Linked DNA regions of Homo sapiens. The protein of the gene in region 2 interacts with the protein of the main gene of each other region in a biochemical or structural test. Each region holds a gene or a part of one and is shown on either strand. Other genes may lie near its edges.

The links. Proteins that work in one complex are often made in the same cells at the same time.
Region 1: the proteins of PRTN3 (region 2) and IL32 interact in a biophysical measurement, tested with the Homo sapiens proteins (one study listed by IntAct).
Region 3: of the proteins of PRTN3 (region 2) and SERPINA1, one has a biochemical effect on the other in vitro, tested with the Homo sapiens proteins (one study listed by BioGRID).

The regions. Positions count from the first base shown.
Region 1 is NC_000016.10:3,064,247-3,068,439, forward strand, and holds the start of IL32 (interleukin-32), read left to right. Parts: upstream 1-1,393; 5' UTR 1,394-1,441; exon of another isoform or gene 1,442-1,537; 5' UTR 1,538-1,565; coding exon 1,566-1,580; intron 1,581-3,130; coding exon 3,131-3,169; coding exon of another isoform or gene 3,170-3,307; coding exon 3,308-3,367; intron 3,368-3,737; coding exon 3,738-3,764; intron 3,765-3,933; coding exon 3,934-3,993; intron 3,994-4,193.
Region 2 is NC_000019.10:846,337-848,675, forward strand, and holds the end of PRTN3 (myeloblastin precursor), read left to right. Parts: coding exon 1-41; intron 42-1,413; coding exon of another isoform or gene 1,414-1,434; exon of another isoform or gene 1,435-1,462; coding exon 1,463-1,633; 3' UTR 1,634-1,839; downstream 1,840-2,339. UniProt on the Homo sapiens protein: Serine protease that degrades elastin, fibronectin, laminin, vitronectin, and collagen types I, III, and IV (in vitro).
Region 3 is NC_000014.9:94,382,103-94,385,602, reverse strand, and holds part of SERPINA1 (alpha-1-antitrypsin precursor), read left to right. Parts: intron 1-2,223; exon of another isoform or gene 2,224-2,361; 5' UTR 2,362-2,365; coding exon 2,366-3,011; intron 3,012-3,500.

The DNA.
Region 1 (4,193 bases), on a different chromosome or scaffold from region 2:
TGGGGTGGATCCTACTTCTTTTTTTTTTTTTTCCGAGGGGAATTTTCATTGTTGTCCCCCAGACTGGAGTGCAGTGGCACCATCTCAGCTCACTGCAACATTCGCCTCCCGGGTTCAAGTGATTCTCCTGCCTCAGCCTCCCGAGTAGCTGGGAATACAGGTGCCGGCCACCACGCAAGGCTAATTTTTGTATTTTTAGTAGAGACAAGGTTTCACCATGTTGGCCAGGCTGGTCTAGAACTCCTGACCTTAGGTGATCTGCCCGCCTCGGCCTCCCAAAGTGTTGGGATTACAGGCGTGACCCACTGCGCCCGGCCTAGGGTGGACCCTATTTCAATATGACTGGTGTCCTTTGGAAAGGGGAAAGGGGGACAGTCACACCCAGGCAGAACGTGATGAAGATGAAGATGGCCATCTACAAGGGCAGGAGAAACCTGAACAGAATCCCAGCTCCGGGCCCTCAGAAGGACCCCACGCTGCCCACATTGACCTTGGACCTCCAGCCTGCAGATCGTGAGGGAAGAGACGTCTTCGACTTAGGGCCCCTTGTCGTGGTACTTCCTTAGTTTGGCCCCAGGAAACCATCCCAAAGGCAAGGGCGTGGTTGTGCTCAGCTGGGGGAAGGGGGCTGGGGGCCGTGAGGAGGAGGTGGGAGGCCCAGCCAGGCTGGAGGGTCAGAACCCGTGGAGCTAGAAGAGCCCGTAGGGGAGCCCCAAGATTGCTGAGACCAGTGACCTTCGGCCCCAGATGGCCTTGCCTTGGCCCAGAAGGGTCAGAAGGACCTGGTCAGCCAAGCTCAGACAGCCGGCAGGATGCCTTCCACCCTGCAGAGGGTCCTATCTTGTCCCACAGGTAGATCTACATCACCACTAGCCACCCCTCCAACGTGCACAGGCCCCTGCCCTCACGGCGCCCCTCTTAGGTCCGGCAGTTCCTGCCTCCTTCTGATCCAGAAGTTTCTCTGGCCTCTGGAGCCGGGGCACACCTCATGCAAGGACAGGGTCCAAATTCCTTTGTCCTTGGATCCCACTTGGCTGACGTCACCTTCCTGTACTCAGGGAGTTTCCCCAGCCAGCTGTCCCGAGTCTGGACTTTCCCTCTGCCCCTCCCCACTCTCAGGCTGGTGGGGTGGGGAAAGCAGCCCATTCCTGGGCTCAGAGACTCCCACCCCAGCTCAGAGGGAGCAGGGGCCCAGCCAGGGACGGACCCTCATTCCTCCCAGGGACCCCAGACCTCTGTCTCTCTCGGGTAAGTCTCCATCTCTGTCTGTCTCTGTCTCTGTCTCTGTCTCTGTCTGTTTTTCACGCACTCAGCAAGGCCTCCTGCCCTGAGAGAGGCTCCGCCCACTACCCCCCACTTTCCCCATAAAACCAGCTGAGTATTTGTGCCAGGAAGACTGCGTGCAGAAGGTGACTGTCTCAGTGGAGCTGGGTCATCTCAGGTGGGGAGTTGGGGTCCCCGAAGGTGAGGACCCTCTGGGGAGGAGGGTGCTTCTCTGAGACACTTTCTTTTCCTCACACCTGTTCCTCGCCAGCAGGCCTTGGCTCCTTGAACTTTTGGCCGCCATGTGCTTCCCGAAGGTGAGTGAGAGGCTGCGTGTGCTTTTGTGGGCATGTCTGAAAACAGACCGTAAGGGTGCGGGTGCCCTCAGTATTTCCCGAGGTGCCTGTGTGTCAGGGCTCAGTCAGGGGCACCCAGCGGCAGGAGGATAGTGATGGGGTGAGAGTGTCAGTGGAGGCGCTGGAGGTCATATGTGTCGGGGGCGCTGGAGAACGGCAGGGGTGTGGATGAGAGGGAGCACCTGTCCCAGGAGCCCTTCACAGCCCGGAAAGCCCGGGGCAGGGGTGGGGCAGGGCTCTGCTGGAAACGACTCGGAGAATGCTTCTCTCAGAGGCCGGCTCAGCTGGGTGGGCCCAAGAGCAAGGCCTGTGTGGGTCCTGGTGTCTCTTCCTCCTTTCCTGGGTTCCCTCCGACCTCCCATCCTCTACCACTGCCCCACCGCAAATGCTAGGCCCACCACACCCTCCAGGGAGCTCTTCGGCCTGTGACAATAGGGGTTTCCATGATGTGGCCTGGCTCAGGTTCAGGACAGTGACCCGGAGGACACATGGCTCCCGCATGTCGGCACGGTGCTGCTTTCACCCTGGTTCCTGGGAAATCAGGCTAGCGGGATGGGACCATCGCTGCCTGAAAGTGTGCAGACAGCTGCCCTGCCCAGAATATGTCCCCAGGCCCTGCGCACTCTGTGGGTGACTGTCACCACTCTATAGTGGGGGAAACCAGGCATGTCACCCCCGAGACTAGGCCCTTGACGTGGGGGCTCAGCGGGGATTCTGTGGGGTGCCTCTGGCCTCTGTGGATGCAGCCACGTGTCTGCAGGCAGGAATGGCCCGGGACCTGTGGGTCTGCATGTTGGCAGTCGGGAAGAGTGGCAGGTTGTAGGGTGGACCTACCTGGCACCCCAAATATTAATCAGCTCATCAGAGAGGAATGGCTGCTGTTACCTTCTCAATTGTCATGTCCCTAAACATTTTTTCCTTGGCCAACTCTCACCTGGGACCATAGTGGTTGTGGGAAACCCAGCTGAGCCAGCCTGCTCCAGGACAGTGTCCATCCTCCCGTGTGTGTACATGGGGGGGTGTGTGTGTGCAGGGAGGACACCCCGGCCCACGCAGGCCCTGCTCTTGTGAGGAGGGGTCACCTAGGCCCACGCAGGCCCTGCTCTTGTGAGGAGGGGTCACCTAGGCCCACGCAGGCCCTGCTCTTGTGAGGAGGGGTCACCTAGGCCCACGCAGGCCCTGCTCTTGTGAGGAGGGGTCACCTAGGCCCACGCAGGCCCTGCTCTTGTGAGGAGGGGTCACCTAGGCCCATGCTGGCCCTGCTCTTGGGCCTGCCCAGCTGAGCCGGCTCCTGAGAGAAGCGCTTTCTGAGTCGTTTCGAGGACAGCCCTGGCCGGTCTTTCCAGGCTGTGAGGGGCTCCTGGGACTGCTGTCTCCTCTTATCCTGTACCTCTGCCATGTGTCTCTGTGTGTGTGTGTGTGTGTGTGTGTGTGTGTGTGTGTGTATAAATTATCCTGGAGGAAAGGTTAAGGTGACACATGGAGACTGAGTGTCACCGTTATTTCCGCAGGTCCTCTCTGATGACATGAAGAAGCTGAAGGCCCGAATGGTAATGCTCCTCCCTACTTCTGCTCAGGGGTTGGGGGCCTGGGTCTCAGCGTGTGACACTGAGGACACTGTGGGACACCTGGGACCCTGGAGGGACAAGGATCCGGCCCTTTGGTGCCAACTCTGCCTCTCTTCACAGCACCAGGCCATAGAAAGATTTTATGATAAAATGCAAAATGCAGAATCAGGACGTGGACAGGTGGGTGGATTTCCCCTCAGGCACCAGGTCACATGTCCCCGCCCCCAGGCACTCCACCCTGTGTGGGGCTCAGGGTGAGAAGGATGAAGAGGGACCCACAGGCTCCCTCACCCCTTACCGTGGGCAAATGCTTGCACCTGGGTGGCAGTGAGTGGGCGGGTGGGGGATCTGGACGCCCGGGGAGACTGAGGGAGGCATCCAAGCCCCAGGGCTCCTTGAGGAAACAACAGGGGTGCCAGACGTGGCCCGGGCCCCTGGCTGGGCCCAGTTCGGGGTGTGTGGGAGCTGAGGACTCACTGGGCTTGAGGACTGACTGATGTGGGGTGCAGAGGAGGCTTGGGCCTGGAACCGAGTGCTTTGTTCCTAACAGGTGATGTCGAGCCTGGCAGAGCTGGAGGTGAGCCGTGGCCTCCCCCTCCACCAAGCTTAGTCCCTGGGTCTTAGGCTCCACAGGACACTGGGTCTGGGCCCCGGGTCCCCTTGGGAATCACCTGGACCAGTGGGGGCCACAGTGGGAAGGGGGCAGGCAGGAGCAGCATGAACCCCCTGTGCCCTCCTCTCCCCAGGACGACTTCAAAGAGGGCTACCTGGAGACAGTGGCGGCTTATTATGAGGAGCAGCACCCAGTGAGTATGACACACCCATCTGGGCACCTTGCCTTCCTTCACCTCTGCCCTGTCTTTTCTTTCTTTCTTTCTTTTTGTTTATTTGAGACAGAGTCTCGCTCTGTCGCCCAGGCTGGAGTGCAGTGGCATGATCTTGGCTCACTGCAACCTCCAAATCTCGGGTTTAAGTGATTCTCCTGCCTCAGCCTGACAAGTAGTTG
Region 2 (2,339 bases):
TTTGCACTTTCGTCCCTCGCCGCAAGGCCGGCATCTGCTTCGTAAGTAACCGTGCCCCCACCCCGGGCACCGGGCTGCCATGAGGGGAGGAGGGCGGCGGCCAGGGTTCCACGCCACCTCTTAGCTGTGTGGCTTCATGCTGTGCCTCAGTCTCCCCACCTGGAAGGTGGGCACACCCAACACCCAACGGGCAGGCTCAGCGGGGTGGGGGCGCTCACATTGCACCTGGCTGCTTGGGTGGGTCTGGGGGTTCCCTGCCCCCCACTCCCCTCTAGGACCACAGGAAGGTGTGGGAGACCCATCCGCCCTCACCGGCGGCCCCTTCCAGAATCCAGGACTCCAGGTATCCAGCGGGAGGCCCATAAATGCCCAGTTCCTACGAAAGACCTCAGCCCCTCCCTGCTCACACTTTTTGTTTGTTTTTGAGACGGAGTGTCGCTCTGTTGTCCAGGCTGGAGTGCAGTGGTGAGATCTCAGCTCACTGCAACCTCCACCTCCCAGGTTCAAGGTATTCTCCTGCCTCAGCCTCCTGAGTAACTAGGTGCACAGGTACCTGCCACCGTGCCTGGCTAATTTTTTTGGTATTTTTAGTAGAGATGAGGTTTCTCCATGTTGACCAGGCTGGTCTTGAACTCCTGGCATCAAGTGATGCCTGGCTGGTGCTCACACATTTTAAAGAAAATTCCAGGCCAGCAGTGGTGGCTCACGCCTGTAATCTCAGCACTTTGGGAGGCCAAAGCGGAAGGATCTTTTGAGTCCAGGAGTTCAAGACCAGCCTGGGCAACATAGCAGGGTGGCATCTCTACAAATAATTTAAATATTAGCTGGGCATGGTGATGTGAGCCTGTAGGCCCAGCTACTCAGGAGGCTAAGGCAGGAGGATCACTTGAGCCTGGGGAGTTCGAGGTTGCAGTGAGCTATGATTGTGCCACTGCACTCCAGCCTGGAGAACAGAGCGAGACCCTGTCTCGAGAGAAAGACAGCCAGCTACTCGGGAGGCCGAGGCAGGAGAATCACTTGAACCCGGGAGGCAGAGGTTGCAGTGAGCCGAGATCACGGCACTGCACTCCAGCCTGGGTGACAGAGCGAGACTCTGTCGCAAACAAAACAAAAACAAAACAAAACAAAACAAAAGGAGAAAGAAAGAAAGAGATAGAGAGAGAAAGAAAGAAGAAAGAAAGAAAAAGAGAGAAAGAAAGAAAGAAAGAAAGAAAAAGAAAGAGAGAGAGAGAGAGAGAGAGAGAGAAAGAAAGAAAGAAAGTTCCATATTGGAAGCATTTTATTCTGAAACAGCTGTGGCTACCCCAGCCCCCTTCCTGGCTGCCTGGGGCCAGCCCGGGTGACTGGCTGTCCCCATCCTCCCGGGAGACTCAGGTGGCCCCTGATGGGTGACTGGCCGTCCCCATCCTCCAGGGAGACTCAGGTGGCCCCTGATGGGTGACTGGCCGTCCCTGTCCTCCAGGGAGACTCAGGTGGCCCCCTGATCTGTGATGGCATCATCCAAGGAATAGACTCCTTCGTGATCTGGGGATGTGCCACCCGCCTTTTCCCTGACTTCTTCACGCGGGTAGCCCTCTACGTGGACTGGATCCGTTCCACGCTGCGCCGTGTGGAGGCCAAGGGCCGCCCCTGAACCGCCCCTCCCACAGCGCTGGCCGGGACCCCGAGCCTGGCTCCAAACCCTCGAGGCGGATCTTTGGACAGAAGCAGCTCTTCCCCGAACACTGTGGCGTCCGGGACGGCCCCACCCGTCCCCCCACACTCCCTCCCACGGGGCTCCGGGAGACAGGCCGGCCCTGCACCTCACCCCACCGTGACCTCAATAAACGTTGAAACTCCCCCTGGCTCCTGTCTGTCCTTCCCATATAGGGAGGGGAGGGGGAACTGCCCACCGTGACCTCAATAAACGTTGAAACTCCCCCTGGCTCCTGTCTGTCCTTCCCATATAGGGAGGGAACCAGGGAGAGGTCCCCTGGGTTCAAGTCCCCGAGCCCCAAACTCAGGATGGGGGGAGTCGGAGCGGGGGATGGGGGCCCAGGTTGCAGGGGGTCTCTCTCCTGGATGCTCGTGGCTGTGGGTTCTAACCCGGCCCCATCAGGGTGGCCCTGGGCAGGTTGTTATTCATCTCCGTGCCTCAGTTTCCTCATCTGGAAAATGGACTCGCCCCAGACGTTTCCTAGAACTGTCCCTGCTGGCTCAGGGACTCCTTGAGGAAGGGGATGGGGATGGGGAAGCAGCCTGGGGGGCTTCCTGGAGGAGGTGGCAGTGCCAGAGCTGCATATCAAGGTGTGAACAGAAACATCCGAAGGGCTGCCAGGCAGGGGGCACAGTCCAGGCAG
Region 3 (3,500 bases), on a different chromosome or scaffold from region 2:
GTAACCCCAGCACTTTGGGAGGCCAAGGCAGGCGGATCAAGAGGTCAGGAGTTCAAGACCTGCCTGGCCAACACGGTGAAACCTCAGCTCTACTAAAAATACAAAAATTAGCCAGGCGTGGTGGCACACGCCTGTAATCCCAGCTATTTGGGAAGCTGAGACAGAAGAATTTCTTGAACCCGGGAGGTGGAGGTTTCAGTGAGCCGAGATCACGCCACTGCACTCCACCCTGGCAGATAAAGCGAGACTCTGTCTCAAAAAAAACCCAAAAACCTATGTTAGTGTACAGAGGGCCCCAGTGAAGTCTTCTCCCAGCCCCACTTTGCACAACTGGGGAGAGTGAGGCCCCAGGACCAGAGGATTCTTGCTAAAGGCCAAGTGGATAGTGATGGCCCTGCCAGGGCTAGAAGCCACAACCTCTGGCCCTGAGGCCACTCAGCATATTTAGTGTCCCCACCCTGCAGAGGCCCAACTCCCTCCTGACCACTGAGCCCTGTAATGATGGGGGAATTTCCATAAGCCATGAAGGACTGCACAAAGTTCAGTTGGGAAGTGAAAGAGAAATTAAAGGGAGATGGAAATATACAGCACTAATTTTAGCACCGTCTTTAGTTCTAACAACACTAGCTAGCTGAAGAAAAATACAAACATGTATTATGTAATGTGTGGTCTGTTCCATTTGGATTACTTAGAGGCACGAGGGCCAGGAGAAAGGTGGTGGAGAGAAACCAGCTTTGCACTTCATTTGTTGCTTTATTGGAAGGAAACTTTTAAAAGTCCAAGGGGGTTGAAGAATCTCAATATTTGTTATTTCCAGCTTTTTTTCTCCAGTTTTTCATTTCCCAAATTCAAGGACACCTTTTTCTTTGTATTTTGTTAAGATGATGGTTTTGGTTTTGTGACTAGTAGTTAACAATGTGGCTGCCGGGCATATTCTCCTCAGCTAGGACCTCAGTTTTCCCATCTGTGAAGACGGCAGGTTCTACCTAGGGGGCTGCAGGCTGGTGGTCCGAAGCCTGGGCATATCTGGAGTAGAAGGATCACTGTGGGGCAGGGCAGGTTCTGTGTTGCTGTGGATGACGTTGACTTTGACCATTGCTCGGCAGAGCCTGCTCTCGCTGGTTCAGCCACAGGCCCCACCACTCCCTATTGTCTCAGCCCCGGGTATGAAACATGTATTCCTCACTGGCCTATCACCTGAAGCCTTTGAATTTGCAACACCTGCCAACCCCTCCCTCAAAAGAGTTGCCCTCTCAGATCCTTTTGATGTAAGGTTTGGTGTTGAGACTTATTTCACTAAATTCTCATACATAAACATCACTTTATGTATGAGGCAAAATGAGGACCAGGGAGATGAATGACTTGTCCTGGCTCATACACCTGGAAAGTGACAGAGTCAGATTAGATCCCAGGTCTATCTGAAGTTAAAAGAGGTGTCTTTTCACTTCCCACCTCCTCCATCTACTTTAAAGCAGCACAAACCCCTGCTTTCAAGGAGAGATGAGCGTCTCTAAAGCCCCTGACAGCAAGAGCCCAGAACTGGGACACCATTAGTGACCCAGACGGCAGGTAAGCTGACTGCAGGAGCATCAGCCTATTCTTGTGTCTGGGACCACAGAGCATTGTGGGGACAGCCCCGTCTCTTGGGAAAAAAACCCTAAGGGCTGAGGATCCTTGTGAGTGTTGGGTGGGAACAGCTCCCAGGAGGTTTAATCACAGCCCCTCCATGCTCTCTAGCTGTTGCCATTGTGCAAGATGCATTTCCCTTCTGTGCAGCAGTTTCCCTGGCCACTAAATAGTGGGATTAGATAGAAGCCCTCCAAGGGCTTCCAGCTTGACATGATTCTTGATTCTGATCTGGCCCGATTCCTGGATAATCGTGGGCAGGCCCATTCCTCTTCTTGTGCCTCATTTTCTTCTTTTGTAAAACAATGGCTGTACCATTTGCATCTTAGGGTCATTGCAGATGTAAGTGTTGCTGTCCAGAGCCTGGGTGCAGGACCTAGATGTAGGATTCTGGTTCTGCTACTTCCTCAGTGACATTGAATAGCTGACCTAATCTCTCTGGCTTTGGTTTCTTCATCTGTAAAAGAAGGATATTAGCATTAGCACCTCACGGGATTGTTACAAGAAAGCAATGAATTAACACATGTGAGCACGGAGAACAGTGCTTGGCATATGGTAAGCACTACGTACATTTTGCTATTCTTCTGATTCTTTCAGTGTTACTGATGTCGGCAAGTACTTGGCACAGGCTGGTTTAATAATCCCTAGGCACTTCCACGTGGTGTCAATCCCTGATCACTGGGAGTCATCATGTGCCTTGACTCGGGGCCTGGCCCCCCCATCTCTGTCTTGCAGGACAATGCCGTCTTCTGTCTCGTGGGGCATCCTCCTGCTGGCAGGCCTGTGCTGCCTGGTCCCTGTCTCCCTGGCTGAGGATCCCCAGGGAGATGCTGCCCAGAAGACAGATACATCCCACCATGATCAGGATCACCCAACCTTCAACAAGATCACCCCCAACCTGGCTGAGTTCGCCTTCAGCCTATACCGCCAGCTGGCACACCAGTCCAACAGCACCAATATCTTCTTCTCCCCAGTGAGCATCGCTACAGCCTTTGCAATGCTCTCCCTGGGGACCAAGGCTGACACTCACGATGAAATCCTGGAGGGCCTGAATTTCAACCTCACGGAGATTCCGGAGGCTCAGATCCATGAAGGCTTCCAGGAACTCCTCCGTACCCTCAACCAGCCAGACAGCCAGCTCCAGCTGACCACCGGCAATGGCCTGTTCCTCAGCGAGGGCCTGAAGCTAGTGGATAAGTTTTTGGAGGATGTTAAAAAGTTGTACCACTCAGAAGCCTTCACTGTCAACTTCGGGGACACCGAAGAGGCCAAGAAACAGATCAACGATTACGTGGAGAAGGGTACTCAAGGGAAAATTGTGGATTTGGTCAAGGAGCTTGACAGAGACACAGTTTTTGCTCTGGTGAATTACATCTTCTTTAAAGGTAAGGTTGCTCAACCAGCCTGAGCTGTTCCCATAGAAACAAGCAAAAATATTCTCAAACCATCAGTTCTTGAACTCTCCTTGGCAATGCATTATGGGCCATAGCAATGCTTTTCAGCGTGGATTCTTCAGTTTTCTACACACAAACACTAAAATGTTTTCCATCATTGAGTAATTTGAGGAAATAATAGATTAAACTGTCAAAACTACTGACAGCTCTGCAGAACTTTTCAGAGCCTTTAATGTCCTTGTGTATACTGTATATGTAGAATATATAATGCTTAGAACTATAGAACAAATTGTAATACACTGCATAAAGGGATAGTTTCATGGAACATACTTTACACGACTCTAGTGTCCCAGAATCAGTATCAGTTTTGCAATCTGAAAGACCTGGGTTCAAATCCTGCCTCTAACACAATTAGCTTTTGACAAAAACAATGCATTCTACCTCTTTGAGGTGCTAATTTCTCATCTTAGCATGGACAAA